Linked DNA regions of Homo sapiens. The protein of the gene in region 4 purifies or fractionates together with the protein of the main gene of each other region. This does not show direct contact. Each region holds a gene or a part of one and is shown on either strand. Other genes may lie near its edges. The genes, in order: CAND2, COPG2, XPOT, HTR6, EXOC2, XPO4 and TBCD.

What was found.
Region 1: the proteins of HTR6 (region 4) and CAND2 purify together in Homo sapiens (affinity purification with mass spectrometry, with the first as the bait; one large-scale study listed by BioGRID). This does not show direct contact.
Region 2: the proteins of HTR6 (region 4) and COPG2 purify together in Homo sapiens (affinity purification with mass spectrometry, with the first as the bait; one large-scale study listed by BioGRID). This does not show direct contact.
Region 3: the proteins of HTR6 (region 4) and XPOT purify together in Homo sapiens (affinity purification with mass spectrometry, with the first as the bait; one large-scale study listed by BioGRID). This does not show direct contact.
Region 5: the proteins of HTR6 (region 4) and EXOC2 purify together in Homo sapiens (affinity purification with mass spectrometry, with the first as the bait; one large-scale study listed by BioGRID). This does not show direct contact.
Region 6: the proteins of HTR6 (region 4) and XPO4 purify together in Homo sapiens (affinity purification with mass spectrometry, with the first as the bait; one large-scale study listed by BioGRID). This does not show direct contact.
Region 7: the proteins of HTR6 (region 4) and TBCD purify together in Homo sapiens (affinity purification with mass spectrometry, with the first as the bait; one large-scale study listed by BioGRID). This does not show direct contact.

What each region holds. Positions count from the first base shown.
Region 1 is NC_000003.12:12,802,782-12,806,949, reverse strand, and holds part of CAND2 (cullin-associated NEDD8-dissociated protein 2), read right to left. Parts: intron 3,463-4,168; coding exon 3,319-3,462; intron 1-3,318.
Region 2 is NC_000007.14:130,564,034-130,568,201, forward strand, and holds part of COPG2 (coatomer subunit gamma-2), read right to left. Parts: intron 361-4,168; coding exon 227-360; intron 1-226. UniProt on the Homo sapiens protein: The coatomer is a cytosolic protein complex that binds to dilysine motifs and reversibly associates with Golgi non-clathrin-coated vesicles, which further mediate biosynthetic protein transport from the ER, via the Golgi up to the trans Golgi network.
Region 3 is NC_000012.12:64,417,590-64,421,757, forward strand, and holds part of XPOT (exportin-T), read left to right. Parts: intron 1-456; coding exon 457-526; intron 527-1,286; coding exon 1,287-1,505; intron 1,506-2,480; coding exon 2,481-2,665; intron 2,666-2,763; coding exon 2,764-2,932; intron 2,933-3,645; coding exon 3,646-3,882; intron 3,883-4,168. UniProt on the Homo sapiens protein: Mediates the nuclear export of aminoacylated tRNAs. In the nucleus binds to tRNA and to the GTPase Ran in its active GTP-bound form. Docking of this trimeric complex to the nuclear pore complex (NPC) is mediated through binding to nucleoporins.
Region 4 is NC_000001.11:19,667,609-19,671,776, reverse strand, and holds part of HTR6 (5-hydroxytryptamine receptor 6), read right to left. Parts: intron 1-4,168. UniProt on the Homo sapiens protein: G-protein coupled receptor for 5-hydroxytryptamine (serotonin), a biogenic hormone that functions as a neurotransmitter, a hormone and a mitogen. Also has a high affinity for tricyclic psychotropic drugs.
Region 5 is NC_000006.12:686,478-690,645, reverse strand, and holds part of EXOC2 (exocyst complex component 2), read left to right. Parts: intron 1-1,433; exon of another isoform or gene 1,434-1,507; intron 1,508-4,168. UniProt on the Homo sapiens protein: Component of the exocyst complex involved in the docking of exocytic vesicles with fusion sites on the plasma membrane.
Region 6 is NC_000013.11:20,776,829-20,781,414, forward strand, and holds the end of XPO4 (exportin-4), read right to left. Parts: 3' UTR 501-4,586; downstream 1-500. UniProt on the Homo sapiens protein: Mediates the nuclear export of proteins (cargos), such as EIF5A, SMAD3 and isoform M2 of PKM (PKM2). In the nucleus binds cooperatively to its cargo and to the GTPase Ran in its active GTP-bound form.
Region 7 is NC_000017.11:82,761,474-82,765,641, reverse strand, and holds part of TBCD (tubulin-specific chaperone D), read right to left. Parts: intron 1,678-4,168; coding exon 1,580-1,677; intron 1-1,579.

The DNA.
Region 1 (4,168 bases), on a different chromosome or scaffold from region 4:
GTGGCCTGATAGTGTGCATTTCTAGCAAGCTCCCAGTTGAGGCTGATACTGTAGGTGGTCCAGGGAGCACACTTGGAGAACCTCTGCCTTAGAGGCTTGCTTCTCAAAGTTTGGTGGTGAGTTAGCATTGGCAATGCCACTCGGGAGCTTGTTCAGGATGTGGAATCTCAGGCCTTACCCTACCCTAGATCTACTGAGCCAGGATCTGTAGCGCCACAAGGTCCCCAGGTGATTCCAATGCACAGGAAAGTGTAAAAACAGCGGCACTAGACGCCCTCGTTCTTGGCCTTAGTTGCCATCACCTGGGCCTCTAAAAAATGCCTACCTGGGCACTGCCCTCAGAGAGTCTCAGTTAATTGGTTTCAGATGTGGCCTGGAGGGGGTTGGGGGAGGGCTTTTAAAATTCCCCAGGTGATTCTAACATGCAGTCGAGGCTGACAACCTCTGCCCTACCTGAGTGGTTCTCAGACATTGGTGTGCATCAGAATGCAGATTCCAGGGTGCTATAGTCTCATCCTCTGCCCCAGCTCCCTTCCTGCTCCATCCCCTGAATCTGAATCCCTGGGCAGGGAATACAGGGTTTCAACAAGAGCTTCAGGTGACTGCAATGCACAATGGTTTTCTTTTTTCTTGATTTTTATTGAGATGAGGTCTCGCTCTGTTGCCCAGGCTGGAATACAGTGGCGTGATCATAGCCCACTGCAGCCTCAAACTCCTGGGCTCAAGCGATCCTCCTACACAGATGAGATTACATATTCAAGCCACCATGCTTGGCTAATTTCTTTTTTCAGTGTCTCGCTATGTTGCCCAGGCTGGTCTTGAACTGCTGGCCTCAAGTGATCCTCTTGCCTCAGCCTCCAGAATAGCTAGGACTACAGGCATGTGCACCATGGTTTTCAAACCTTGGTTCTCTCAACTTCCTTCTCCACAGCTCCTCTATCTACGTAATCATGGAGTCCTCCATCCTACCTCCTATAGCACTGGTTCCCACTAGGAGTAATACCACCTTGGCAATTTATGGGGGTCCTTGGTCATCAAAACTATTGAGTTAGTACTTCTGGCCTTTAAGGGGTTGAGAAGCAGGAACGGCAGAAAGACAATAATGTAAAACAAAGCACTGTCCATGCCCCGCAAGAGGTTCTAACATCCCAATGGGCATTTGTATAGGCAAAAGGCCTTTCTATAATTATCTGAGTCTAAAATTTCATTTTATACATAGACACAAAATACTTTTTTACATTGTTTTAATATACCACATTTTAGATTTTCTAAGAATGCAATTTTCAGGTAAATTGAAGGAAAATTCTACTTTGTTTTCTGGGAAACTTTATTGGGAGATGGTCACTCACTTTAGAAAATCCTGGCTGGGTGTGGTGGCTCATGCCTGTAATCCCAGCACTTTGGGAGGCCTAGGCAGGCAGATCACTTGAGGTCAGGAGTTCAAGACCAGCCTGGCCAACATGGTAAAACCCCGACTCTACTAAAAATACAAAAATTAGCCGGGTGTGGTGGTGCATGCCTGTAATGTCAGCTACTGAGGAGGCTGAGACATGGGAATCGCTTGAACCTGGGAGGGGGAGGTCACAGTGAGCTGAGATTGCACCACTGTACTCCAGCCTGAGTGACAAAGTGAGACTCTGTTTCAAAAAAAAAAAAAAGAAGAAAAAAAAAAGAAAATCTTGCCACTAAGAGCAATGGCCTCCAATTCTGAAACCTGAGTCCCCAACACCCCCTGTCTGTATCTGTACTCATGATGAGTTCACGTGTAGATGCAGGCTTCTCGTGACTTCATCACTTCTACCATCACAGTGCCCAAGCACGCATACATGGAAACACACATTACTATAAACTACATTCCTTCTAGTTTGCCTTTATGGTTATGGTTAGGGCATTATGTGTAGAGGTAGGTTTTATAATGTATGAATTTCATTTCCTAATAGGAAACGGTATTACAAACTATTTGTTATAAAAAGGTATTGGTTCTGCTGGTGTGAAACCCATCCTAAGTCTACTCCATGACCAGAAAGACATTCCCAGCTCATAAACTTGTCCATGTCACCTTCCTACATAAAACCCTTTACTGAATTCTCTCTGCTCTTGGGATCACATTGCAAATTCATTAACATGCCCCAGAAGAATGCCTGGACCCAGCTCACAGACAGTGGTTTGAGAGACAGTGCCCAATTCTCTCACCCTGTTGTCCCTTGATCCCTGGCATTCTATTTAAAATTACCCAGGTGATGCTAACCTGCAGTCAAGCTTGACAACCTCTGCCCTACACTAGTGGTTCTCAGGTGTGGGTGTGAGAATGACCCTACCACACAAGCATCCCCACGTGCTCTGCACATACCCTTGTCTTGTCTTTTTCTACTCGAGATAACTGGCCAACGTCTCAGGATCACAGCCTCACAGTGATCTAAGGCTGGGGCTTTTAGGACCTCTCCCAGTCCCATGTGCCCTAAGCCTTTTTTGTTTGTTTGTTTTTGAGATGGAATTTTTGCTCTTGTTGCCCAGGCTGGAGTGCAATGGCGCAATCTTGGCTCACTGCAATCTCTGCCTCCTGGGTTCAAGCGATTCTCCTGCCTCAGCCTCCCAAGTAGCTGTGATTACAGGCACGCACCACCATGCCCGGCAACTTTTTTTTTTTAATTATTATTTAGTAGAGACAGGGTTTCACCATGTTGGTCAGGCTGGTCTCAAACTCCTGACCTCAGGTGATCCACCTGCCTTGGCCTCTCAAAGTGCTGGGATTACAGGCATGAGCCACCGCACCCAGCCTTTAAGCCTTTACCACCTTGATGTGTGTCAGCTTGACCTTCCCAGCATTTACATCTGTCTGAGGGCTTTCTCTGGCTGGAGGTGGCAGGCAGTGGACAACCCTCCATCCTACCCCAGAAGCAGCCCTTAACCAATGACTACCAGGGAGCTGGTGGATTAATACCCCAGCTCCCTTACCCTTTGAGTGGGAAAAGTCCAAGGGACATGTCCTATACTGTGTCCCAGAGGTCCCCATGGGGTTAAGCTCATCAGGCCCACTGTGGTCACTTGCTTCGTACCATACCCTTGATTGGTCCTCTTCCCTTTCCTGCCTCACTTCCCTACTCCTCTACCATGTTTCCTGGGAGCGCCTCCCAAATAAACTTAGATTTGAATCCTTGTCTCAGCATCTTCTGGGAAAACTCAGACTAAGGTACCATTCAACGAGAGCTGCTCAGCAGGTCTCCTCTGCGAGGCTGTACCCCAAAGGGACAGCGGTCCCCAGGATGCTCCCACACAAGGTAGGGCCCCCTCTCCTGCTCCACCGAGGCTGACACTCACCACTTGACAGCCAGGTTCTGCACCTCACCGTTCTTGTCCTCCAGGAGCCGGAGCAGCATCTTCACCACCTTGCGCTCGCTGTCCTCGTCCAGCTGGATGGAGTCCTTCTGCAACTCCGACATCAGGTCGCTGGTGGCCATGAACCTGCACAGGGAGGGTGGAGGAGATTGCTGAGCAGCTCCTGGGCCCTGGTGGATTTGGGCAGTACCTCAGGGTTCCCCTAGAAGTAGACCTTAATACAAAGATTCGAGGTCAAATGCAGTCCTGTGTCACATAATGATGTTTTGGTAAGTGACAGGCAACATATACAATGGTTGTCCCATAAGATTATAATGGAGCTGGCCGGGCGCAATGGCTCACGCCTGTAATCCCAGCACTTTGGGAGGCCGAGGTGGGCAGATCACGAGGTCAGGAGATCAAGACCATCCTGGCTAACATGGTGAAACCCAGTCTCTACTAAACAAAATACAAAAAATTAGCCAGGTGTGGTGGCGGGCGCCTGTAGTCCCAGCTACTTGGGAGGCTGAAGCAGGAGAATGGCGTGAACCCGGGAGGCGGAGCTTGCAGTGAGCCAAGATCATGCCACTGTACTCCAGCCTGGGCGACAGAGAGAGACTCCGTCTCCAAAAAAAAAAAAAAAAAAGATTTTAATGGAGCTGCCCTATACAGGCATGCCATTTTAATCTTTTCTACCTTATTTTTACTGTACCTTTTCTATGTTTAGACACACAAATACCACTCTGTTACAACTGCCTACAGTACTCAATACAGGTTTGTAGCCTAGGAGCAACAGGCCACACCATATAGCCTGGGAGTGTAGTAGGCTCTACCATCTAGGTTGTGTAGGCAC
Region 2 (4,168 bases), on a different chromosome or scaffold from region 4:
AAAATTCTTTCAAAAGTTTTATATGGAGAAATAGAAACATTAAAAAAAGTAATAAAGTAAGGAACAACTAAAATAAACTATCTACATATAAGCTATCAGAATGCAAAGGCTATATATACACAGAGCTAGTGTTCAGAAAACATTCTTAATACCTATTCTGTAGACCTATGAAACTTAAAGCAAAAACTTAGGAACATAAAAGCCAGCCATCAAATATAAAACAAACCTGAAACAGCAGGTGCCAACTCTCTTGCAGTGCAGTTAGGAAGATGGATGATAGCTGAAGCAGCTTCATAAATAACCATTTCATGTTTATTTCGCAAGCAGCTCTCAATGAAATCAAACAGTGGACTTTCATGGCTGCCAATAAATATTTATAGGCCATTATTTAGATATCAAATAGAGAGGCAATATGCATAGGGATTAAAAGCACAGGCAGATTGAGAGGCACTTCTGGAATGGTGGATGAGGGATTTCTAAAAATTCATTTCATCACAAAGCAATTAGAACACTGGCAAAATTGTCAAAATCAACTTTTGCAGAACTCTAAAAAATTAATCAAAGATTTGCAACAATCCTGAACATCTATTTAAGAAAAGTAGCTGAATCTTAGTAAAAATGGTGAAGTTTCTGGTGTTTTAACCTACTCATTCTCAATTTCCATGCACCTCTTCCCAGTTCCATAGCAGTCTTGGAAACCAGCAGCCTCAGAACCACAGTAACTGTGAATGCCAGCAGCCTAGCTACAAAAGCAGCTCTGGGCCAAAATCTCATCCCCAGAGAACTGTCACTATGTGACCTGTCTGGTGCTCCTAGAAAAGCCCTATTCACAGGCTAATCTTTACTTCACCTGACTCAAGAGCTCATTCAGCATGAAAAGCCCTATGCCCAGGGAGTTTGTCCAAAAAAATCAGTAGTATTTGGTTAATCTTGCAGCTGCCAGAAGCAGCAATTTTAGCAGGGGCAAACAAGAGGCTGGCCAAAAAACTTAAAAGGAAAATTTGAGAAATGAGATGTCCTTAGGGGGCTTTGAAAATTTCTAAAATATTTCTGGGGATACAGAAGGTCATGTGCATGTGCAGGGCTAAGCAAACAGCCACTAAAGACCTGACAGAGCTCCGCTCTCTAACCTTTGCTTGACTCTGAGGCTCTGCACAAAGCAGGAAGTGAAGGCTAAGGCAGAGCTGTGAACTCCCGGGGCATGGAAAGCACGCCCCAACATACACAGCACCCGTTGGAAAATGATGGGAGACATACTGGTTTAAAGCATTTAAGAAAATCTGTCAAATTATTATTTGTGACTCAGCTAATCAAACAAAGACTTCAGTGTCTATACAAGATACAGAATAAAGACTACAGAAATAGTCCAGGAAGGTCACAAACAACAACAAAAACAACAAACCCCAGGGATAGGGAAAGGGAAGGTCTGATTACCAGTGTTGTCACATTATAATATTTAAAATATAATGTTTCTGACAAAATAATTATGAGACACACAAAGAAATACTTAACTATGACCCATCTATGGGGGAAAAAAAGTAGTCAATAGAATTTATTCCTGAGGAAGCCCAGATGTTGAACTTACTGGCAAAAACTTTAAGTCAGCTAATATAAATATGTTCAAAGAACTAAAGGAAACTAAAATATTTAATTTAAAGGGAAGTACAACAAGATGTCTTATGAGACTACCAATAAAGTGACAGAAATGATTTTTTTTTTTAAGAAACCAAATAGAAATTCTAGATTTGCAAAGTGCAATGACTGGAATGAAAAATTCACCAGAAAAAGTTCAATAGCAGACTTGCACAGGCAGATGAAAGAATAAGAAAACTTGTAGATCTACTGAGATAAACCAGCTGATGAAAATAAAAAAAGAAGGAAGAAAAATGAACAGTGCTTTGGAGACCTGTGTAACATGACCAAGGGTACCAACATTTTGGATGATAGGAGTTTTCATAGGAAAAGAGAGACACAAAGGGGAAAAAGAACATAAGAAGAAACCATGGCTGAAAACCTCATAAGTTTGATTTAGAAAAAACATTAATTTATGTACCCAAGAGGCTCAAAAAGTCTCAAGCAGAATAAATACAAAAATATTCAAATATATACACATCAGAGTGAAACTGTTGAAAGCATAAAAATAGTCATTCTGACTGGTGTGAAATTGTATCTCATTGTGGTTTCGATTTGCATTTCTCTAATGATTAGTGATGTTGACCATTTTTTCATATGCTTGGTACCATCTTGTACCAGTCAGAATAGCTATTATTAAAAAGTCAAAAAGTAACAGATGCTGGTGAGGTTGCAGAGAAAAGGGAATGCTTACACACTGCTGTTGGGAATGCAAATTAGTTCAGCCACTGTGGAAAGCAGTTTGGAGATTTCTCAAAGACCTCAGAACTACCATTCAATCCAGCAATCCCATTACTAAATACGAACCCGAAGGAATATGAATTGTTCTTCTTAGGTTTTGATGAGAAGGCGAGGATTAAAGAAAGACTGAGAGAGAGTTGGCGGCTCTACAGCAATGCAGGTTTTATGTCCAGCATAAGACCTGCAGAGGCGGGGCACCAGCTTAATGCCAGGGCCCACCTCTGCTTACAGGCTGGGGCAATTTTAGGCCTGGGAGGGAGGGGTCTGAGGGTTATGGCTTGCTGCCCGGGAGGATGTTGATAAGATGTTCCCATGATGAGGTGGTTTGGCCCTTGTTCTGGCAGGATGTGACAGTGATGTTCCTTGGACTTTTTCCCAGCAGAATGTGATAAGAAAGTCAGGCAGTCGGGCAGGATGTTTCTCACGGCCCAGTCCCCCAAGGAATGTTTCACTTTGATCAAGGTCTATGAAATGACAAGGGGCTTACAAAATGGTACAGTTTGGACTAACAGTTCTACCATAAAGACACAGGCCCTCCTATGTTCACTGCACCACTACACACAATAGCAAAGACATGGAATCAACCTAGATACCCAACAACAGTGGACTGGATGAAGAAAACGTAGTACATATACACCATGGAATACTATGCAGCCATAAAAATGAATGAGATTATGTCCATTGCAGCAACATCGATAGAGCTGGAGGCCATTATCCTAAGCAAATTAACACAGGGACAGAAAACCAAATACTGCATGTTTTCACTTATAAGGGAAGCTAAACATTGAGTGCACATGGTCACAAAGAAGGGAACAATAGGCACTGGAGCCTACTTGAGGGTGTAGGGTGGGAGAGGATGAGGATAAAAAAACTACCAACTGGGTGGTACCAAGAAGTTTGAGATTATGCTAAATGACCAAACCTAAGAATAACTGGTGTTCCCAAGGAAGAAGATAAATCTAAAAGTTTGGAAAACTTATTTGAAGGAATAATCAAGGAAAACTTCCCCGGCCTTGCAAGAGACCTAGACATCCAAATACAAGAAGCTCAAAGAACAGCCAGAAAATTCATCACAAAAAGATCATCACCTATGCATTTAGTCATCAGATTATCTAAAGTCAAGATGAAGGAAAGAATCTTAAGAGCTGTGAGGCACAAGCATCAGGTAAGCTATAAAGGAAAACCTACCAGATTAACAGCAGATTTCTCAGCAGAAACCCTACAAACTAGAAGGGACTGGGGTCCTATCGATAGCCTCCTTAAAAAAAATAATTATCAGCCAAGAATTTTGTATCCAGTGAAACTAAGCTTCATAAATGAAGGAAAGATAAAGTTCTTTTCAGATAAACAGATGCTGAGAGAATTCGCCACCACCAAGCCAGCACTACAATAACTGTAGAAGGAGTCCTAAATCTTGAAACAAAACCTTGAAATACACCAAAATAGAACCTCCTTAAAGAAAAAAATCTCACAGGGCCTATAAAACAATAACACAATGAAAAATAAAAAACAAGGTATTCAGGCTACAACTAGCATGATGAATAGAATAGTACCTCACTCACATCTCAGTAATAACACTGAATGTAAGAGGGCTAGGTGCGGTGACTCACACCTGTAATCTCAGCACTTTGGGAGGCCGAGGCAGGCAGATCACGAGGTCAGGAGTTTGAGACCAGCCTGGCCAACATGGTGACCCTGTCTCTACTAAAAATACAAAAATTAGCTGGGCATGGTGGTGGATGCCTGTAGTCCCAGCTACTCGGGAGGCTGACACAGGAGAATCACTTGAACCTGG
Region 3 (4,168 bases), on a different chromosome or scaffold from region 4:
TTCTGGAAAAGTCAGAATATCTGGTAACACCAGGCCTGTTTTTCTACATGACAATTCTCTCTTAGAGTTAAGTAGCTGCATGGGCACTTGTGTTCAGAATCTCTGACTTACTAATTAAGCAAAATAACAAATCACTACTGAGAGGATTCCTAGTTCACCTATTGGTTTATTCTGTAGATCACAGACCACAAAACATTTTCATTCGAAAAATTGTGTAGCCATCATTTGTTTCAACATGAACAGAATCACAAATTAAAGATTGATATTGATGCCCTACCTGCCACTCTTGTCCTTATCTTTAAAGCAATGATGAGTGGCATTATCAGTTTATGTTAGGGAACTTCAGATAATTGAGAGCTATACAAATTTTCCCTTTCAAATATATGAGGCTGTTATTTTTTACAACCATAGACACCAAATATAGCCATTATTCTTTTTCTTCTCTATTTTGAACAGATACTCAGAACTAACCACTGTTCAACAACAGCTAATTAGGGAGACGCTCATATCATGGCTGCAAGCTCAGGTAAAATCATAATTTCATTCAGTACCTCAAATTATTAGATATTTAAACTTATTTTTTGCAAGAGTTTGGAACTTTACCTCAAAGATTTTCATCAGTGTTCCTCCATTTGATTTCATAGCTTTTTTAAAAGGTGCTGGTTTTAAAGATCATGGAAGTGGTAGTTTAGCAATAATTTAATATTATATCAATGACTGAAATGGTCATAGTTTCCATGACACATTGTGGAAACTTTGGTTTTAAAATGTAGTTGTTTTTAACTACTTGACAAATGCTGCTTTCTGTTTGGCTCTTAAAGGTGAGCCCTCCTGGACAGCCTCTCCACCAGAGCCCTTTATAAAGGGCCAGTTGAGTTCTTTTCAGTTAATTTTAGCTAATCTTAACACATAAAGCAGTTGTGTAGCTAGAGTTTTCATTTTCCTTAAAGAGCAAGTAGAGGAAAATTTTTTTTTCTTCTTAGAAGAAATTATAGGAACTATTAAAACTCTGCACATGAAACTTTTCTGTCAAAGTGTAAGAATGAGGAATAATCATTACAGCCTTTAATGGTTCATTTAATTGTTCTTCATCTGGTCAATCACTTAAATACTTTTGATAATTTTGATAATCATAATTATCAAAATAATTTTGAAGAGTATTTGTTGCATAGTTTATCTGGGCCATGTTGACATTTGATGAAACTTTGCCTTTTAATAAGACAACTGGTGTTTCTGGGTCTTTTCAATTTACATTTAATTTTATGGACTGTTTCTCTGTTTGTCAGATGCTGAATCCCCAACCAGAGAAGACCTTTATACGAAATAAAGCCGCCCAAGTCTTCGCCTTGCTTTTTGTTACAGAGTATCTCACTAAGTGGCCCAAGTTTTTTTTTGACATTCTCTCAGTAGTGGACCTAAATCCAAGGGGAGTAGATCTCTACCTGCGAATCCTCATGGCTATTGATTCAGAGTTGGTGGATCGTGATGTGGTGCATACATCAGAGGCAAGTAACTAACCATGAATTTTTTATATTTAATGTAAGTTTTGTAGGTGATAATGGGCACATAATAAAAAGAGCAGGGAAGTTTTCTTTCTTGAGGTAAACTTTCTTAAGTTATATAATTATAAATTTACCTGATGTTTTGGATTTTATTTTATGAAGGAACTCAAACTTGGTTATTTTTTTTCCAGAGGTATATTGAAATTAAAGTATTACATTACATTTTTTATTTTTTTACTTTTTTGAGACGGAGTCTTGCTCTGTTCCCCAGGCTGGAGTGCAGTGGCACAGTCTTGGCTCACTGCAACCTCCGCCTCCTGGGTTCAAGCGATTCTCCCACCTCAGCCTCCCTAGTAGCTGGGATTATAGGCACATGCCACCACGCCTGGCTAATTTTTGTATTTTTTGTAGAGATTGGGTTTCGCCAGGCTGTGCTCAAACTCCTGACTTCAGGTGATCCGCCCGCCTTGCCCTCCCAAAGTGTGGGGATTACAGGCATGAGCCACTGCGCCCAGCCTAAATTTTTTTTAACTAGGCAAATACTGTAGTGACATACACGAGTTGATTTTCTTTTATGAATCTGTTGAGAAAGGTAGTCTCAATTTAATACTGCTATATAGTCCCTGAGCAAGGAAGAAGCATTGCTTAGGAGTTGTCCGTGTTGCTACTTCTGTATTCTTCATCACATAGTGTAAGTACTATGTTACTATATTGAGAAATAACTTAAAATATGCTTAAGATTTCTAAGCAGTGCTTTTTATAGTTTGTATTTACTAAGAAATTAACTCTGACACTGAGGAGTAGAACAGAAAGAGGAAATACAAAGAATCACAGGATATGATCTTAGAGCTGGTAAATAGGAAATACTGGTAGGGAATGTGTTAACAAGTCTGAAAGTTTACTCTCTGCAAGTATATTCAGATATCAAACATGATTTTGTAAGGTAATCTACTTTGCATTTGGCGTTTTGTATTTTAGGAGGCTCGTAGGAATACTCTCATAAAAGATACCATGAGGGAACAGTGCATTCCAAATCTGGTGGAATCATGGTACCAAATATTACAAAATTATCAGTTTACTAATTCTGAAGTGACGTGTCAGTGCCTTGAAGTAGTTGGGGCTTATGTCTCTTGGATAGACTTATCCCTTATAGCCAATGATAGGTAAGTATGCCTATTATTTTTATAGTATAAACTTGTAAAATACAGTATCTAAAACTCATGACTTTGAAAATGTTACAATTTTATTGTCCCATTACCAGGTTTATAAATATGCTGCTAGGTCATATGTCAATAGAAGTTCTACGGGAAGAAGCATGTGACTGTTTATTTGAAGTTGTAAATAAAGGAATGGACCCTGTTGATAAAATGAAACTAGTGGAATCTTTGTGTCAAGTATTACAGTCTGCTGGGTTTTTCAGCATTGACCAGGTTGGTAAATTTATATAAAACATTGTATGTAAAGTTGTTAGAACAAACTGGGATAGGTACTAAGTTAAATATAATAATAGCTTTTTTTCTTCTAAATGTTATAAACTCCCCTTGAGATTATAATATAAACCACTGCATCTAGCCAAAATGTTCTCAGTAGCATTCTCCTTGGAGAATGGGTTATACCAGTTCTTAAACCTGAAAGCCTGTAATTGCACATTTCTCACAAACTCTTAGGAGATGCTGACACAACTTGTTCATAGTGGAATTGAGATTTTTTGTTTTGTTTTGTTTTTTGAGATGGAGTCTCACTCTGTTGCCCAGGCTGGAGTGCAGTGGCACAGTCTCGGCTCACTGCAACCTCCGTCTCCCGGGTTCAAGTGATTCTCCTGTCTCAGCCTTCCGAGTAGCTGAGATTACAGGCGCATGCCACTACACCCGGCAAATTTTTTACCTTTTTGGTAGAGACGGGGTTTCACCATGTTGGCCAGGCTTGTCTCGAACTCTTGACCTCAGGTAATCCACCCACTTCGGCCTTCCAGAGTGCTGGGATTACAGGCATAAGCCACCGTGCCCAGCCTGGAATTGTTAAATATATGACGTCATTTTAAAATTGAATCCTGTAATTAGCACTTGATTCATATTAAAGTTCAGTTTTTCCTCTTAGCTTGGGCAGGCAGTTTTAAACAGAGATGTGTCTTGATTGCTTATAGGAAGAAGATGTTGACTTCCTGGCCAGATTTTCTAAGTTGGTAAATGGAATGGGACAGTCATTGATAGTTAGTTGGAGTAAATTAATTAAGAATGGGGATATTAAGAATGCTCAAGAGGCACTACAAGCTATTGAAACAAAAGTGGCACTGATGTTGCAGCTACTAATTCATGAGGATGATGATATTTCTTCTAATATTATTGGATTTTGTTACGATTATCTTCATATTTTGAAACAGGTAAGTTTTTGTTTTATTCTTTTTGCTCAATACATAATACAAAGGAGCCATGGAGAAGTGGAAAATATGGAAAAATTAAAAATGAGAAAATACCCATAATTCTACTACCTAAAGATATTTACTGTTAAATACTAATGTATTTCCATCTTAAAAAAAAAAGAATTGGCCAGAAAATAGTTTCAGGTTCTAAATTCAGTAGACTAACCAGCTTCAGAGGTAGTTATAGGTTTAGGTTTTTTTTTTTATTTTGAACCTGTCTTTATTTGTGAATACAGTTGAAATTTTC
Region 4 (4,168 bases):
CAAGGCTGACCAGCTCCCATGTTCTGACCCCAGAGGAACTGGGGCCTCGAGACCTATGCCCAGCTCCTTTCCCTCTGCAGGGAAGCTAGAGAGTGGAATGGGGCAGGAAGCCAAGGCTAAGTGGGGCTGGGCACAGGAAAAGGGAAGGGGTCCAAGACACCCACATCTGATTCATTCTCATCACTTCCTTTAGGTCCAAACATTGAGGGGGCCTCCACCTCCAGGCCAGCTCTGGTGGGAAGAAAGAGGCGGTGACCCAGGAGGGCCAATGCAATTTCTCAGATGCATTTTCCCAAAGTGCAGGCCGTTCACCAGGCAATCAGGAAAACGGCCTGCAGGAGGCTTACTTAAGGAGCCGAGTGGATTTGAAAGCAGGAACAGAGGCAGAATTTGCACACGTCACGTTCAAACCAAGAGAATGGGCTTTCCAGAAAGCGGGGGGATTAGAACAGACACATTTCTGGCTTGAGAGGCCCCTGAGTCACTCTGCCTTAGAAGTAAGGCGCTGGCCTAACCAACCCATGAAGACCCCTCCAGCCTTTCACTTTAGGGCTTGGTGTGAGTGCTTTGCTTTCATCTTCAAACATACACAGTGAATAATAGATTTTGAATGTTTGCTGGGTGAAGCATCCCTCCTATAAGCTCCATAATCCTCATCGTGGTACAGTTTGATGATTAATGTCTGTACTCCTAACTAGAACAGATTTCAAGAGGGCAGGCACTGTTGGTCTCGTTCACCACTACATACACAGCCTAGAACAGCTGCTGTGCAAAGCAGGTGTCAATACATGTCACCAAGCAAATGAATTCACACGATAAAAAGTTCAGGATCATGACACTCAAGAAGTGACTCTGAAAGGCATGAGAAAACAGGCAACCGCACAAACAGGGCTGGAATACCAGGCTCCCTGAAGCACTGTGTACACTGCATTCCTTCCATCAATACATACTGAGCACCCATGATGTGCCAGGTGCCCCTAATTCCTGGGACCATGGGGGAAAACAGAAAGACAGGCCAGGCATGGTAGCTCACGCCTGTAATCCTAGCACTTTGGAAAGCCAAGGCGGGTGGATTGCCTGAGCTCAGGGTTTCAAGACCAGCCTGGGCAACACAGTGAAACCCCATCTCTACTAAAATACAAAAAATTAGCCCGGTGTGGCGATGTGCACCTATAGCCCAGCTACTCCGGAGGCTGAGGCAGGAGAATTGCTTGAACCTGGGAAGCGGAGGTTGCAGTGGGCCAAGATCACGCCACTGCACTCCAGCCTGGGCGAGAAAGTGAGACTCTGTCTCAAAAAAAAAAAAAAAGGCAGAAAAACAAGTTCCCCACCCTCATAGGCCTAAATTCTAGAAGAAGGAAATAAACAGTAAATAAATAAAAATGGGTAGGTATAGAACACGTCAGGGGGTAGGAGGTGCTGCTGAGAGAAATAACTTAGGAAATGAGGACTGGAGAGGACCTGGGGAGGGTGAGAGGTGCTACTCTTGAGAGAGGGATTAGGGGAGGCAATTCAACAGAGGCTGGAAGGAAATGATGGAAATTAGTGGGAGAACAGGGTGGAGACCTGAAGAAAGGGCACTCCAAGCAGAAGGAACCGCAAGTGAGGCAGAATGGGCTTGGTGTGTTCAAGGAACAGCAAGGAGGCCAGTATGGCTGAAAGAGAAGAAACAAGCAGGATTATAGAAGGAGAGGAGGCCAGATAGGGTCAGAGGGCCAGGTGATGTGAGACACAAGGCTGCCAGAGCAGAGGAATGATGCAGCAGGAACTGCATTGTAAAGGGGATCATTGGGGCCACTGCGGAAGGTTGAAAGGGAGGAAGAGCGGAATCAGGAAGTCAGGGCCAGGCGCAGTGGCTCACGCCTGTAATCCCAGCACTTTGGGAGGCCGAGGCTAGCAGATCACGTAAGGTCAGGAGTTCGAGACCAGCCTGGCCAACATGGTGAAACCCTGTCTCTACTAAAAATACAAAAATTAGCTGGGCGTGGCAGCACGTGCCTGTAAGCAGCCCAGGTAGGAAGTCATCAGCGTGTGGGTGGTATTTTCAGTTACGAGACAAGATGAGGTCACTAACGGGGCAAATGTGGAAAAAGGACGAGATGCTCCGAGGACTGAGGACTAGGGATGCCATGGCTCAGGCGGATCAGGAGGACCCAACAGAGAAGACCAGAAGGCACAGAGAAGAAAAGGGGCAAGGTGTGGGGTCCCCGAGCAAAGCATTTCAAGAGCATCACTGCCCACAGGCAGCACACCAGCACAGGGCGATGGCACCAGCCAGATCCGAGCTTAAACCTCACTTACCAACTGTGCAATCTTGGGCAAGTCACCTCTCGCTCTGAGCCTCAGTTTCCCCACCTGTCTAACAGGGGTGCTGGTAGTACTTGACTCATTGGGTGTTTGGGGAATTAATAAGTTTAGCTCAGTGCCTGGTACAGAGTGAGTGCTCACAGATTGTGGGGCTGCAGCTGTTAGCACCTGGGAGACTCCTGCCCAGGTTCCAAGACCACAGACTCAGGTTCAATCCTAGTACCAGCCAGCGAGATTCATGGAAAGAAAATCTGTGTGGTACTGGCACCGCTGCAACTAGGAATCCTGATCTCTCCCGCCCCAACCTCACCCAGACCAGCCAACTTCTCACATCCTTAGTCACGAGAGCAGAGCTTCCTGAACTGTGGGAATGGAGATGATTTTAGATGGTAAAGGGACACCCCATAAAATGAGTGAATCACAGAGTGAGCACGTCAGCCCATTACAGCTGTCTTCCAGCTCTTCTAGGTGCGTCAAGAGAAAGTCCCACGTTGATGCTACCATGTTTGTAATACCTTCTAGCACGCTACAAAGAGAAAGCAGGCCCTAGGCTCATCACCTCAACCACACCAAGCTGCATTTCAGTGATAGGGCTGGAGCTTCTTCAGTTTCACTGAAGTGGTGTTTGTGATCACCTTCTATTTATGGCAAAGGATACAGATTTTCCATTTCTAGAGGAGATACGAAGTTTTCTTTCTACACAAATTTGTGGAAGTAAAAATATAAAAGAGATGATTTAAAGAAAATGTCAAGAATGCCAGGCACGGGGGCATGCACCTGCAATTCCAGCTACTCGGGAGGCTGAAGTGGGAGCTCGAGGCCAGCCTGGGCAATATAGTGAGACCCTGTGTCTAATAAATAAATAAATAAAATGCCAAGTGCATGTGAATTAAGTGGCTTAAGGTGTGGAGGTGGTGGTGGAAGAGGCATTAAGGAAGATATCCGCAGGCAGTTCTTGAATGCCTGAAGCTTGTGAAACACTCCTTTTCAAGAACCCAGGGAAGCCTGTAACCCTAGCACTTTGGGAGGCCAAGACAGGAGGATCGCTTGAGCCCAAGAGTTCAGTGAGTTATGATCGGGCCAGTGCATACCAGCTCTTCAGGCTGGAATGAGCTATGATCAATTCTAAGCTGCAGTGAGCTATAATCACGCCACTACATTCCAGCCCTCCAGCCTGGGTGACAGAGCAAGACCCTGTCTCTTAAAAAACAACAATAACAACAACAAAAAGCAAGAACCCAGGGTATATGGCCTAAGGCAGCCATCCCACCCCTGAAGAAGCAAGTCAGAGTCCCAGCCACCTGCCAAGACTCAAGAATGTTCTACAGGGAGCAGGGATAGGGAGAAGGAGCTGGGCGGCAGCCAGGACTCCCAGTCCATGTGGGGCCCTGCCCCCACCCCAGGTGATAGGCAGGGGCAACTTTGGGCCTCACCCACCTGGGTGGGACAGGCAAGCTTGTCTGGGGGACTGCCAAGGAGGGTGTTAGCCTTTCACCCCTCTGCCAAGTCCCCATGTGCCCAGTGACCTCCAATGCAACCCCCACCCTCCTAGAGCTTTCACCACTCAGGGCTACACCAAAAGAGCCCAGCTGGGACTTTCCTCAAGACCTGCGACCTAAGTCACTGGGTCTCAGGCCTGGTCGGTCTACACACCCACCCCTCCAGGGGGTCAATAGGAGTCAGGTGCACTGTGGCCTGGATGGCAAGAGCAGGCACTCACTTATAGACAATGCAAGGCCTTGAGCTAAGAGCACCTACCCCATTCCCAGGCACTGAAACAAGATGGGACCTACTATGCACAGTGGGGATCAAAACTGACCTCGATCAGGAGTTCAAGACCAACCTGGCCAATATGGTGAAA
Region 5 (4,168 bases), on a different chromosome or scaffold from region 4:
GTGCAAGCTCTGCCTCCCGGGTTCACGCCATTCTGCCGCCTCAGCCTCCCAAGTAGCTGGGACTACAGGCGCCCGTCACCACGCCCGACTAACTTTTTGTATTTTTAGTAGAGACGGGGTTTCACCGTCGCGATCCTCGTGACGGTGGACCTCGTGATCCACCCACCTCGGCCTCCCAGAGTGCTGGGATTACAGGCGTGAACCCCTGCGCCGGGCCGGGAAATTATGAATCTTAAAGCGATGGGTGACACACGCATCGGCATCCTTCAATCTCAGTTTGTTTATTGATTGAAAGGGGGTCTTGTTCTGTCACCCAGGCTAGAGTGCAGTGGCACAGTCACAACACACTGCAGCCTTGAGCGCCATGATTCCAGAAATCCTTCTACCTCAGCCTCCCAAGTAGCTGGGACTATAGGTGCGTGCCACCGGGTTCGGCTCATTTTAAAAATTATTTGTGGAGGTGAGGTCTTCCTACGTTGCCCAGGCTGGTCTTGAACTCCTGAATGCAAGTGATGCGCTGGCCTCAGCTTCCCAGTGCTGGGACTATAGGTGTGACCCACTGTGCCTGGCTGATCTCAATTTGAAAATCACAGAGTCAAAAGGTATTTTTGGCTTAGGCGTCAAAGCAACTATACACTGGTCCTTGGTCTAATCTGGTCTGCTTCATAGTACTGGCTGAGTTGCTTAGATGCTTTGGACTGTTTCCTTTTTTGTGTATTCAGAGAATACATGCAGTTAGATTATCTCTGAAATCCTTCCTGCCTTGAAATTTTCCAACTCAGTGAATCCTATAACCACCTAGCACTTGTCTTATAGCACTTGTGTTGTGTTAGGGACAATATTATTAATGGTGTTTACATACACCAGTAAAAGACTAAGCTCATTCTGGATCGGGATTAGTTTTAATTATTTTTGTATCTTCCAGTCTTACTGTATGCCTGACACATATATTAAAAATCAAATAATATTAGCCTGGATTCATAAGGGGTATTTTTGCCCTCTCAATTAAAGAATAGCTAAGAACTAAACTCTGTAGTATTGAGTGTAAGTCCAGCAGAAGCTCAGAGGTAGGAAGGATCCGTTGGGGCTAGAGTAATTGGGAAGCTTTGATGATAAGAGCTTGATGAAGGAAGGCGTGTGAACACCTGGGCTGCATACCAGGAGCAAAGGCCCAGGGGCTGGTAAGTGAGTGCATTTTGGATTATGGGTGGAGTGCCTTGACTGACAGGCAGAAGAGTTTGGAACTGATTTGTTAGACAGTTCTTTTTTGTTGTTTGTTTTTCCTGGAAAGTTTTATTAGGCCAGCTCAAAAGCTTCCTGAACATCCTTTACCTTAATTCCCTTGGTAGCATTTCAGATTAAAAATACATCATCCAGTTTGCTTTATTTTTGTTTTTGGGTTTATCAGTTTTTCTATGTAATATTTTCCACAGTAAATCTTGGTGCCAATAATGGAACGAACACTGGACACAGGACTGGGGAAGACTGGATTTCAGCTTAGGAGAAGGTGAGCTGCTCAGGGTGGATCCAGAGAGCTTCAAGACTAGTGCCCGGCACATCTTAAGCACTCAGTGACAAGTGCAGCGTTGAAGGCTTTTTTCCCTTTACTGCTTGCTAACAGTGCCACTTTGCACAAGGCTGCCCCTTCGTTTCATTTGTAAGCATGGATGAATTTTTAAAGGCCTTTTCTCATTTTAAAGGTTTGTGATTTTGGAGGGCATATGATTTAACTTTCATTGTATTATAATTTTAGCAAAAGACAAAACGAGACAAAAGGCCATGTTTGGCTTTAGTTTAATTTTAATGAAAACCCCATGTGAATGATAATGATGTATGTCTCAGCAGGAATCAGAAGTCATGCCAGATAGCTCAAATGAAGAAAGGTGCAGAGGGGATTAGGGAATATACAAGGAGTGGTGAGGAGCAAAGGGAAGCTAACAGTAACCAGAAAGGACAGAAGGAGAAAGTAGGGCTGTCTGGAGGAGGATCCGACTGTTGCCAGAGAAGTAGTGCTGGGGGCTGGAAGAGTAACACCGAACTGCCTCAGTGTTGGAACTGGTCCACTTCTGAAATCCAAAGTGCAGGCCTCCCACTGTTTGCTTATAGTCCCTCAACTTTCTCAGTCTCACTCACCCCCACTGCATCTATCAGGCGCTTCTGTGATCTTCAGTCACTGTCATGCCAGTGTGCTCAGTTGTATCGTTGTTGTTCTGTAGCATCTGCCTGGCAGCTTCTCAGCCTTGGGCAGTCTCAACTCTCTGCCTCCTGTAATGCTTGACCTGAGTTGCTGGGGCCAGCTGGGGAAAATCACAGTATCCAGATCTGTGCCCCTATAAATCCATGGTCACCAGCTCAGCTGGGCCATCAAGGAATCTTCCAGAATTTTCCTCATCAGTACCCGCTTCTTATCTCTGCAGAATGTACTTTTCAGCATTTTCACGCTTTTCGAACCTTTCATCCTTTCACATCATTTACACACACTCTTAGCAAGCGGTCTTGCCACCTACATCATAAATGAAAGAGATGTAAGTGGAGAATCGCAGGGGCTTCCTGCCAAAAACTGTTCCTCCTCCCCAGTCACAGTGGAAGAGGTTGTATTTATGCTAAGACCAATCTCCTACCTGGGCTGTGGATCCCATCTACCCCGCCTTTGTGAGGACTTCACTCAGGTGTTCATGTCTTACTAAAGCCTTCCTTCTGTTGGCCTTTATACATGCTTAGAGACAGACAAGAATAAAGTAAAACAGAAAAAACTAGAATCCTCCCTTGATTTCACATTGCCCTTTTAAAATTCCTCTCTTTTTCACTTTCCTGCCACATTTCTTAAAATAGTTGTTTGTAGCCAACTTCTCACCCATCCCAGTGCTGTCTGGTTTCAGCTACGATCACTCTCCTGAAGGCCAAAGTCATTCTTGAGCTTCTGGTCACAAAATCTTGTTCCTGTCATTTCTTCAGGGTAATGCCTGGGACATAGCAAGTGTATAATAAACATTTATTTGACTGAATAAATCCAAGGATGTTTCCTTTTCACAGCCCTAGTTTTTCTGTTTTTCTGGGGTATAGGAGTCCAATACTGTCATCTTTTGAGGATCTGGGTGACTAGTCATTGTATCGCAAATCATCTTGACGGACTAGGTAAAGATACAAATAAATATTATTTGAGGATAAGTTCAGTGGCTCAGTGCCTGTAATCCCAGCACTTTGAGAGGCCGAGGTGGAAGGATAGCTTGAGCCCAGGAGTTTGAGACCAGCCTGGGCAACATAATGAGGCCCCTTTTCTACAAAAATTAGAAAAAAGTTAGCCGAGTGTGGTGGTACATGTCTGTGGTCCCAGTTACTCAGGAGGCTGAAGTGGGAGGATCACTTGAGCCTGGATCACCTGAGGCTGCAGTGAGCTATGATTGCACCACTGCACTCCAGCAGCCTGGGTGACTGAGTGAGACCCTGTCTCAAAAAAAAAAAAAAAAAAAAAAAGAATATTATTTGATAATGACTTCTTCAATCTTGTTCAGGTGATCTGTCTTTCTGGGAAAATAAAACCCTGACATCTTTTTTTCTGAAAAACTATACTTCCTAAAATACTAAGACTTACTGTTTTTATCTATGCATATAGATCTAATAAGAGTAGTAGGGCATTGGGTACTACTGGCAATAGATTTGTGAATAAATAATGCTGTGCTCTTGTATGAAACTCTTTTGTTTTCCTATTAAGTAGTGTATCTTCTTTGAAGTTTTTGTCTTCATTTATTTGTTGGGGGTGGATGGAGGGGGATGAATTTGCACTGGCCTGGTTCATTTTTGACATGTCATCAATGTCCAGTGGCATCGGTTGGAAGTCCAGTCACCTTTAGACCTGCAGCCTTTCCCTGTGCAACATAGTGACAGTCCTTGTCCTCTAGGAGGAGACATGGCATGCTAAGGCAGAGGGCTTTATGGTTCCTGGGGGAATAAAGCAGACCTCTAAGTAACTTTTCCAATTAAGATAGAATCCAGTGCTTGTTTTATGAGAACAGCTGAGTAATCCGGTATATATATAACAGATCTCTTTTATGGGGGCTCTGAGAGCTAAGTTGTCAGGCATTCCCTATATACTTGTCTGGCTTCCAGTATTCCTTCCTAGTCATCTCATGCACATTCTCGTCCCCTTAATCTCTCACCTCCAAACATT
Region 6 (4,586 bases), on a different chromosome or scaffold from region 4:
GTTGCCAATGTGCCAGTATGAAGAGGTGGGGCCTTTAAGAGGTGATTAGGCCAAGAGAGTTCCTCCCTAATGAATAAAATTAGGTCCCATTACAAAGGGGCTTGAAGGAGGGAGTTGATTCTCTCTCGCCACCATCTGGTGATGGCTTGCTTGCCTCTTCCACATGATGGAAGTCAAAGGGCAGCCTCCAGAAATGAAAGAAGTAAGTTTCTGTTCTTCAGTCTCAGGTATTCTAATAGCACAGAGTAAGATAGTTGAATTAAATAGAACAGACTAAGATAGTTAACATAAATAGATCCATTTTCTCATTTTTTAAAAAAAAGTACAGTAAATAATATGGTGAAGTCTACCCCAATATCCCTAGGGTGGTTGTGGTTAGGGCTATAACGTAGTATCAATATGAAGATATTACAGCATGTATTTAAAAGCAATTGACTATTAGGTATCAGACTTAGTGTTATGATACATTTGTCTAATGAAATGAAATCTGTTTTCAGAAATAATCTTTAAATACAATGGAATTTATTGAGCATCTACTATTATATTTCATCCATCACTTTTAAATTTTTTCTTTGGGAGGAACACTTATAAACTCATGATATGGATAACAGACCTGTGGAAATTAATGTAAGCCCTAAGCAGCTTAGTTAGACATTGAATCTAGGTCTGCCTCTACCCTGCAGTCTACCAGTTCAAGTAGCTTTACCAGGTCAGTCCTTAGAAATAACCATAACATCCAGGGCAGTGCAGTTATAAACAGGTGTACAAATAAGAAGTTCTACTACTCAATACATCTTGGGCTTTCTTAAAGGTGTATTTGAAGCCTAAGATTAGGCAGAAATGAACATTATCAAAACAAGAACAAAACTGCTCACTACTGTGGGAATAAAAATGTTTAGCAGATCCTATTTGCTTTTGTTCATTCATCATCTCTGGGAAACATCAATGACTTACCTCAGTTCACTCTCATGCTATATATTAAAAATAATTTACAGGGACACTCAGTAGGAGGTTGAATTATACGCCAGACTGAGACAGGATGCTGCTGGGGGTGCTGTATGGAATTTCCCAGCAAAAGATTCTTTCATTAGTTTCACCAAATATACCATTTCCACTTAGTTTTAAAAGAAAGTCAAACTGAACTGCCATTTGAGATTACATAGAATGCACAAGACTCAATCTGAGACCCTATGTTTAAAAAAACAAAACTGTTTTATAATCTAATCAGCCTGTCAAAGGCATCACTCATAAGCAACCGAATTGTATTTTTGGAGAGCACCATTAAAGATGTCTTTTAAAAAACAGTTATAGATGTGTATTTATTTGGGACCTTTGAAATCATCTGTGGGTCTCAAATGACAGATGATTAGCCTGTGTGTATGGCCCCACACTTGGTAATGAAAGAAACAAAAATTCAAAATACACTCTAATTGGTTTTCTTAAACAACTTTTCTTTATCCACCTTTGGAGTGGAATAAATCTCAATATAAGCTAAATAACAACATTACAAATCAAAGAATATTCAAAGCAAATTCAGGTTAAAAATGAACATTTTAAAGATGCATTTTCTTTAAAAATTAACTTTTCACTTCATATGTTTACAAGATTTAACACTGGGCAAAGGGTGGATCTATCTAGCACACAGTAATATGGTAATTCACCACTTTCCCTGAAAGGCCAAAAAGAATGACTTGCTAAAAGTATTTACTAAATATGCACCAAAGATAATGACTTAACTAGTAACTGTGAAACTGTTTCTAAGACTGTGGGCTGAGATAAATATTATAAAATATAGACAAAATTTTTATATTTCTAATACTGGATATTCTGTGAGTACCACGGGTTCTCCCAGAAGGTGATGCAAATCTTGATTTTTATCTGTACAGATGTCTTCATTTTTTTAAATTTAAAATTATTTTAGGACCGTGTAATGTCCCCAGTGTCAATCTTCCTATAATGGTAAACAAACTAGCACCATTTCAATGCATTTCATAAAAGAGTCTAGCTAAATACCCATGAACAAATCACACATGGTCAAAACAAAAATGTAATAAAAATATTTAGTGAAAAGACACATTTTAACTCCCATTTATGAATTTTAAAAATACAAATAAAATTTTATCAACCTGATATTCAGCCTATAACTGGCTCAATACATAGCCTTATTTCCTAAAATCATATTGCAGCATCTTCTGAAAAACTAAATGCAATTTTATACCTTCATTAGTTATGTTAATAGAGGTAAATATTTAAACAGTACACTCATCCCTGGGTCTTTAAATAAAACTGAAAAGTCTTAGTGTAAGTTTAAAATTTTAATATTTATAAATTTAAAAAATTTTACACGTGCTGAGTGGTAGCAGTGCTAACATTTTTGTGACCATTAAACCACAAACTCACTGCATAGAGCTTCTTTCTTTGTACAGATAATCAAATCACAATACCAACATTTGCAATTTGTAATAATTTTATGTGGTAAAAGACACCACACCAGGAAGCCTGGGCTCAGAAAACACTTGAGGTCAGATCCCTAGTAGGTACATAGTGCAGATGCAGTATATAATTTCAGGCTAGGAAAATTAGCTACTAGTATGTATCTGACAGTTCCTAATAGCTAAGAGGCCTAAGAATGCAGACGGGGAGAAAAAAAACCAAAACCAAAAAAAAAGACACCTCTCCAATTGCTGGGAGGGCCTGGGAATAGGTGAAGATCAAACCACAGTGGGAGAGGAGGGTAAAGATGTGAGCTTCAAGCGGGTAATGGGCAAGCCACACCTCCCAGTTCCTAGGAGGGAATCGCCACGGCCGACTTCAGCATTCTCGTCTTTACTAAGACTTACCCATAGAGAACTACAGCAGGAAACCGATTTCTTCATTCATTCTCTTTAAAAAGTATGAATGCCCAGTATTAAGCTTCTATTTTTATTTGAACCAAACATATTCTTTGGTTAACTATGTCATGGGTTCTCACTATAATCAACAAAGCATACTTCATATATTTTATATCTAAATGAAAATATGCTTAAAATTCAACTGGAACCATGGCATTTCACATCAATTTGAGCTCAGCAATATGCCTAATTTGGACATTTTAATTTTAGAAAACCAATTTTTAAAAATTCTTAAATGCAGTGTTTTCAGAACATAGTTACCAAGTCAGAGAATAACCACTTATATTTTAAAAAGATTAAAACATTATTATATCCTCAAATCAACAATGTTTTTTTGTGGGAAAGCTTACAGAAAATTATAATGTTAAACCTCATAGCCAAATCAGTTCCTTATTCTCTGGTTTTAGAAAACACAAACAAACCTTAAGAAGTACCGAGGTTCCTTCTGACTTAAAAGGTTAATGTTTTATTCAGGAACCAATAACAATAATTCCTCATCAAAGACAGCTAACTTAGTAAGGTCAATTGACAACCACCTCTAACAACAGAGGTGGCAAACAGATAAAAATTGTTTAACAGAGAAAAATATTATTTCAGGGTTCAGAATGATGTTGAATACTAGGAGACTCAAACTTGTAATCCTTGAAACTGACAGCTAGTTCCCTTCAATACTTTAGGGGTTCATAGAAGTATTAACAGAAATGGGAAACATGGTGATATTACAACTATAAAGACTTGACATTTTTGTTAAAAGAGAAAGTTCAAAGACAGTTAAGGGGAGTGTTAAATAATGCTGACTGGGGGGAAATGATATAGATACTTGCTTTTCAAATGAAAATCATGGACAAGTGGTAGTAACCATCCCATCTGAACAGAGTAATGTAATATAATTAGATACACAGTTTACAACGAAATAAGACTAAATTCTTAAAATTAGTTTGAAAAAAACCTGCAGTTTGTTTACATTAAAAGTCATACTTTACACCAGACAAAAACTCAATGCAGTGATGTTAACATGCTACTGTCTTCTAACAGAGATGGCCACCCTGAAAGACCCAAATAATGGTGCTGGAAAGGACACTGTCAAATACTGTCAGGTAGTTTTGCTACTGAGGCAGCCACTCATCCAGCACAAGGACTATAAAAGCAAATCAATCCTTTTAACAGAACAAGAACACAGTTACAGGTGCTACCACATTAACAGACTGTGAAAGTACAAAGTCTTTAGTGATTGTGCCTTGGGAAATAAATGGGTCAAGGAAAATAAAATGAGAAACAAACAAAGGATGTATGGAAAACTAGAGGTTAAAGGATACTATATGAACAACAGAAATTTTATAAAACAAAAATCTAAAAATGAAATACTTGACAGTGTCCCTTTGACATATATAAAAGAGGGCACAAATAATGTTTTTGTTTTAAAAAATATTTTAACAACAGTTTTAATAGAAAAAAAATCAACTGACTTGAATTAAGCCAGTGTTCTTGACACCCACTGGGCCAAGAGCATTAAAACAAAACAAGACCGGAGAAGTTAATAAACACAGCTAAAGACAAAATTGGACAAAATAAAACAAAAGAAAACACAAAGTGAATAAGCATCCAATCAGGCAAACATGGACACAACCACCCTGAAAAGGTCTAGCCGTTGCAACTCAGTGGCATCCCCATCACCTAAAAAATGGTAGTGGCTTC
Region 7 (4,168 bases), on a different chromosome or scaffold from region 4:
AACCTCAAACAGAGGAGCTACAGAGGCCTGCGTGTCCTTGGCAGCTCACCCGCAGTGTCCTCTCGCTGGCCAAGGACTTTCCCGCCAGACAACAGAAATGCGCCTCGCCACTACGAACCCCAAGCCCCACCCTGAGACGGCTGTGAGTACTTCCATAGTCAAAACTGCCAACAGTGAGCCTCTGGGCCAGCACACAGACACCCGCAAGCTTGTAAGAAAAGCAGACTATGAGCACAGACACCCGCAAGCTTGTAAGAAAAGCAGACTATGAGCAGACACCCGCAAGCTTGTAAGAAAAGCAGACTATGAGCACAGACACCCGCAAGCTTGTAAGAAAAGCAGACTATGAGCACAGACACCCGCAAGCTTGTAAGAAAAGCAGACTATGAGCACAGACACCCGCAAGCTTGTAAGAAAAGCAGACTATGAGCACAGACACCCGCAAGCTTGTAAGAAAAGCAGACTATGAGCAGACACCCGCAAGCTTGTAAGAAAAGCAGACTATGAGCACAGACACCCGCAAGCTTGTAAGAAAAGCAGACTATGAGCAGACACCCGCAAGCTTGTAAGAAAAGCAGACTATGAGCAGACACCCGCAAGCTTGTAAGAAAAGCAGACTATGAGCACAGACACCCGCAAGCTTGTAAGAAAAGCAGACTATGAGCACAGACACCCGCAAGCTTGTAAGAAAAGCAGACTATGAGCACAGACACCCGCAAGCTTGTAAGAAAAGCAGACTATGAGCACAGACACCCGCAAGCTTGTAAGAAAAGCAGACTATGAGCACAGACACCCGCAAGCTTGTAAGAAAAGCAGACTATGAGCACAGACACCCGCAAGCTTGTAAGAAAAGCAGACTATGAGCACAGACACCCGCAAGCTTGTAAGAAAAGCAGACTATGAGACCCCCGCCTAGACCTACTTGCTCAAAATCTATAGCACAGCAAAATTCCCAGGAAATTCATCTGCACATTAAAGTGTGAGAAGCACTTCCATTTCCACAGAGTCTCGCTCTGTCACTCAGGCTGGAGTGCAACAGCATGATCTCGGCTCACTGCAACCTCTGCCTCTCAGGTTCAAGCCATTCTCCCGCCTCAGCCTCCCAAGCAGCTGGGATTACAGTCATGTGCCACCAAGCCCAGCTAATTTTTGTATTTTTAGTAGAGACGGGGTTTCACCATGTTGGCCAGGCTCATCTCGAACTCCTGACCACAGGTGATCCACCTGCCTCAGCCTCCCAAAGTGCTGGGATTACAGGCATGAGCCACCGCACCCGGCCTGCTTTCTCCTTGTAAGAAGTTTTTCTGATTTAGTCTCATCTCCACCCCATTCCCTTCCTAGCTACACAGTGCTTCAATCTATTCAAATGCAAGATGCTGAATATCCTGACACTGTTTCAGCCAAAGAGCCCACATCACTAAATTCTGATCCCCAACATACAGTAAAAAGGGACAGAATTAAACCCACAACTTGTGTCTAAGAACTATCTTTCTTGAGAAATAACATTTTGGAGGGTAACCTCTGGACCAAGTATATTACAAAAGTATCTGTCAACTCTGAAGTGCTATGGAAATGTTACCTTGGTGATGATGTAAAGAAATTTAAAAGCCAGATGTACAAGGGAAGCTGGAGATGTCTGATCTTGCACTATGTCCAACAACAAGTTCATCATCCATTCTAGGGAAAAACATAGGAAACATTTACTGTAAAAGTGAACATCAACATGACATTGAGGCCGGCCAGGTGTGGTGGCTCATGCCTGTTTTCCCAGCACTTTGGGAGACCAAGGTGGGAGGATCATTTGAAGCCAGAATTTCAAGGCGGCAATGAGCTATGATCCTACTATTGCACTCCAGCCTGGGCAACAGAGCAAAACCCGTCTCTTTTTTTTCTTTTTTTTTGAGACAGAGTCTTGCTCTGTCCCCCAGGCTGGAGTGCAGTGGCGTGATCTCAGCTCACTGCAACCTCCACCTCCCGGGTTCAGGCTATTCTCCTCCCTCAGATTCCCAAGTAGCTGGAATTACAGGCACGCGTCACCACGCCTGGCTAATTTTTGTATTTTTAGTAGAGACGGGGTTTCACCATGTTGGCCAGGCTGGTCTCGAACTCCTGACCTCAGGTGATCCACCCACCTCGGCCTCCCAAAGTGATGGGATTACAGGTGTGAGCCCACCGCACCTGGCCCAAAACCCTGTCTCTTAAAAAACAAAAACAAACAAAAAGACATAGCTAGGTTAAACGTAAGCAAAAGGAAAAAGATATTCCAACCAATCACAAATCATAAAAGAGCTGGAGTGGCTCTGTTAATATCAGACAAAGTAAATGTCAGAACAAGCATTACCATCAGAGATAAACAGAATGTTTCATGATAATAAAAGGATCAATTCATCATGAAGACTTAACAATTCTGTAAGTATACACACCAACCTACAGAGCTTCAAAATAAGCACAGAAGAAGCTGAGAGAAATGAAAGGAGACACGGTTGAAAACTTCGACACTCCTGTTTCAGGAACTGATAGAACAAGTAAGAGAAAATCGCTGAAACCTAAACAGCACTATCACCCACCTTACTTACGTGACATTTAGAGAACAATCTACCCAACAACAGAACAGACATTTTTCTCAAGTGCACGCGGAATGTTCAACAAAACAGACCATACGCTGGGCTGCAAGTCTTCATACATGGAAAACAACTGCAACTGGCATCCGGGAAACGCAGAGAAGGACACAACGAGATACACTCCCTGAAATCAGAGAGACTGGCAACGCTGAGTGCTGAAGAGAACCCAGAGCAGCTGGAATCCTCATACCTTGTTGGTAGAAATGGTCAACAGTACAATCTTCATGGCATCAGTATGGCAGGTGATGAGTCACACACTTTTTTTTTTTTTGGAGACAGAGTCTCACTCTGTGACCCAGGCTGGAGTGCAGTGGTGTCATCTCAGCTTACTGCAACCTCTGCCTCCCACATTCAAGTAATTCTCGTGCCTCAGCCTCCTGAGTAGCTGGGACTACAGGCACCTGCCACCACACCCGGCTAATTTTTTGTATTTTAGTAGAGATGGGGTTTTACCATGTTGCCCAGGCTGGTCTTGAGCTCCTGAGCTCAGGCAATCCACCTGCCTCAGTCTCCCAAAGTGCTAGAATTACAGGTAGGAGCCACCGCGCCTGGCCAAGTCATACACTTTCTACAAGTAAGACACTTTCTGCTACTCAGCAATTCCACACATGCGTATTTTCCCAAGAGAAAATAAAACCTCTGTCTACCTAAAAACTTGTACATAAACATTTTCACAGTAGCATTACTTTTTTTTTTTTTTTTTTTGAGACGGAGTCTCGCTCTATCACCCAGGCTGGAGTGCAGTGGCAAGATCTCGGCTCACTGCAACCTCCACCTCCCGGGTTCAAGCAATTTTCCTGCCTCAGCCTCCCAAGTAGCTGGGACTACATGCGCACACCGCCACACTGGGCTAATTTTTTGTATTTTTAGTAGAGATGGGGTTTCACCGTGTTAGCCAGGATAGTCTCAATCTCCTGACCTCATGATCTGCCCACCTCAGCCTCCCAAAAAGTAGCATTATTAATAACAGCCAAAAACCGGAAACAACTCAAATGTCCATCAACAGATAAAAGAAGAAACAACCCCAGCACTTTGGAAGGCTGAGGCGGGCGGATCACGAGGTCAGGAGATCGAGACCATCCTGGTTAACAAGGTGAAACCCCGTCTCTACTAAAAATAAAAAAAAAATTAGCTGGGTGTGTTGGCGGGCACCCGTAGTCCCAGCTACTCGGGAGGCTGAGGCAGGAGAATGGCGTGAACCCGGGTGGCAGAGCTTGCAGTGAGCCGAGATCGCACCACTGCACTCCACCGCACTCCAGCCTGGGCAACAGACCAAGACTCCATCTCAAAAAAAAAAAAGAAGAAACAAATTGTGATTTATCAGCACGAGAGAAAACGTACAAACTACTGATACACACACCAACAATGGTAAGTCCCGGAGATGTTATTTTAACAACGGAAGACAAAAAGAGCACATACTGAATGATTCTAGAACAGGCAAAACTAATGAACAGTACCATTAACCAACAGTGGTTCCCTAGGGCTGGGGTGAGGGGACTGACAGCAAAAGGACATCAAGTAACTCCTTGGGATGACAGAAATGTTCC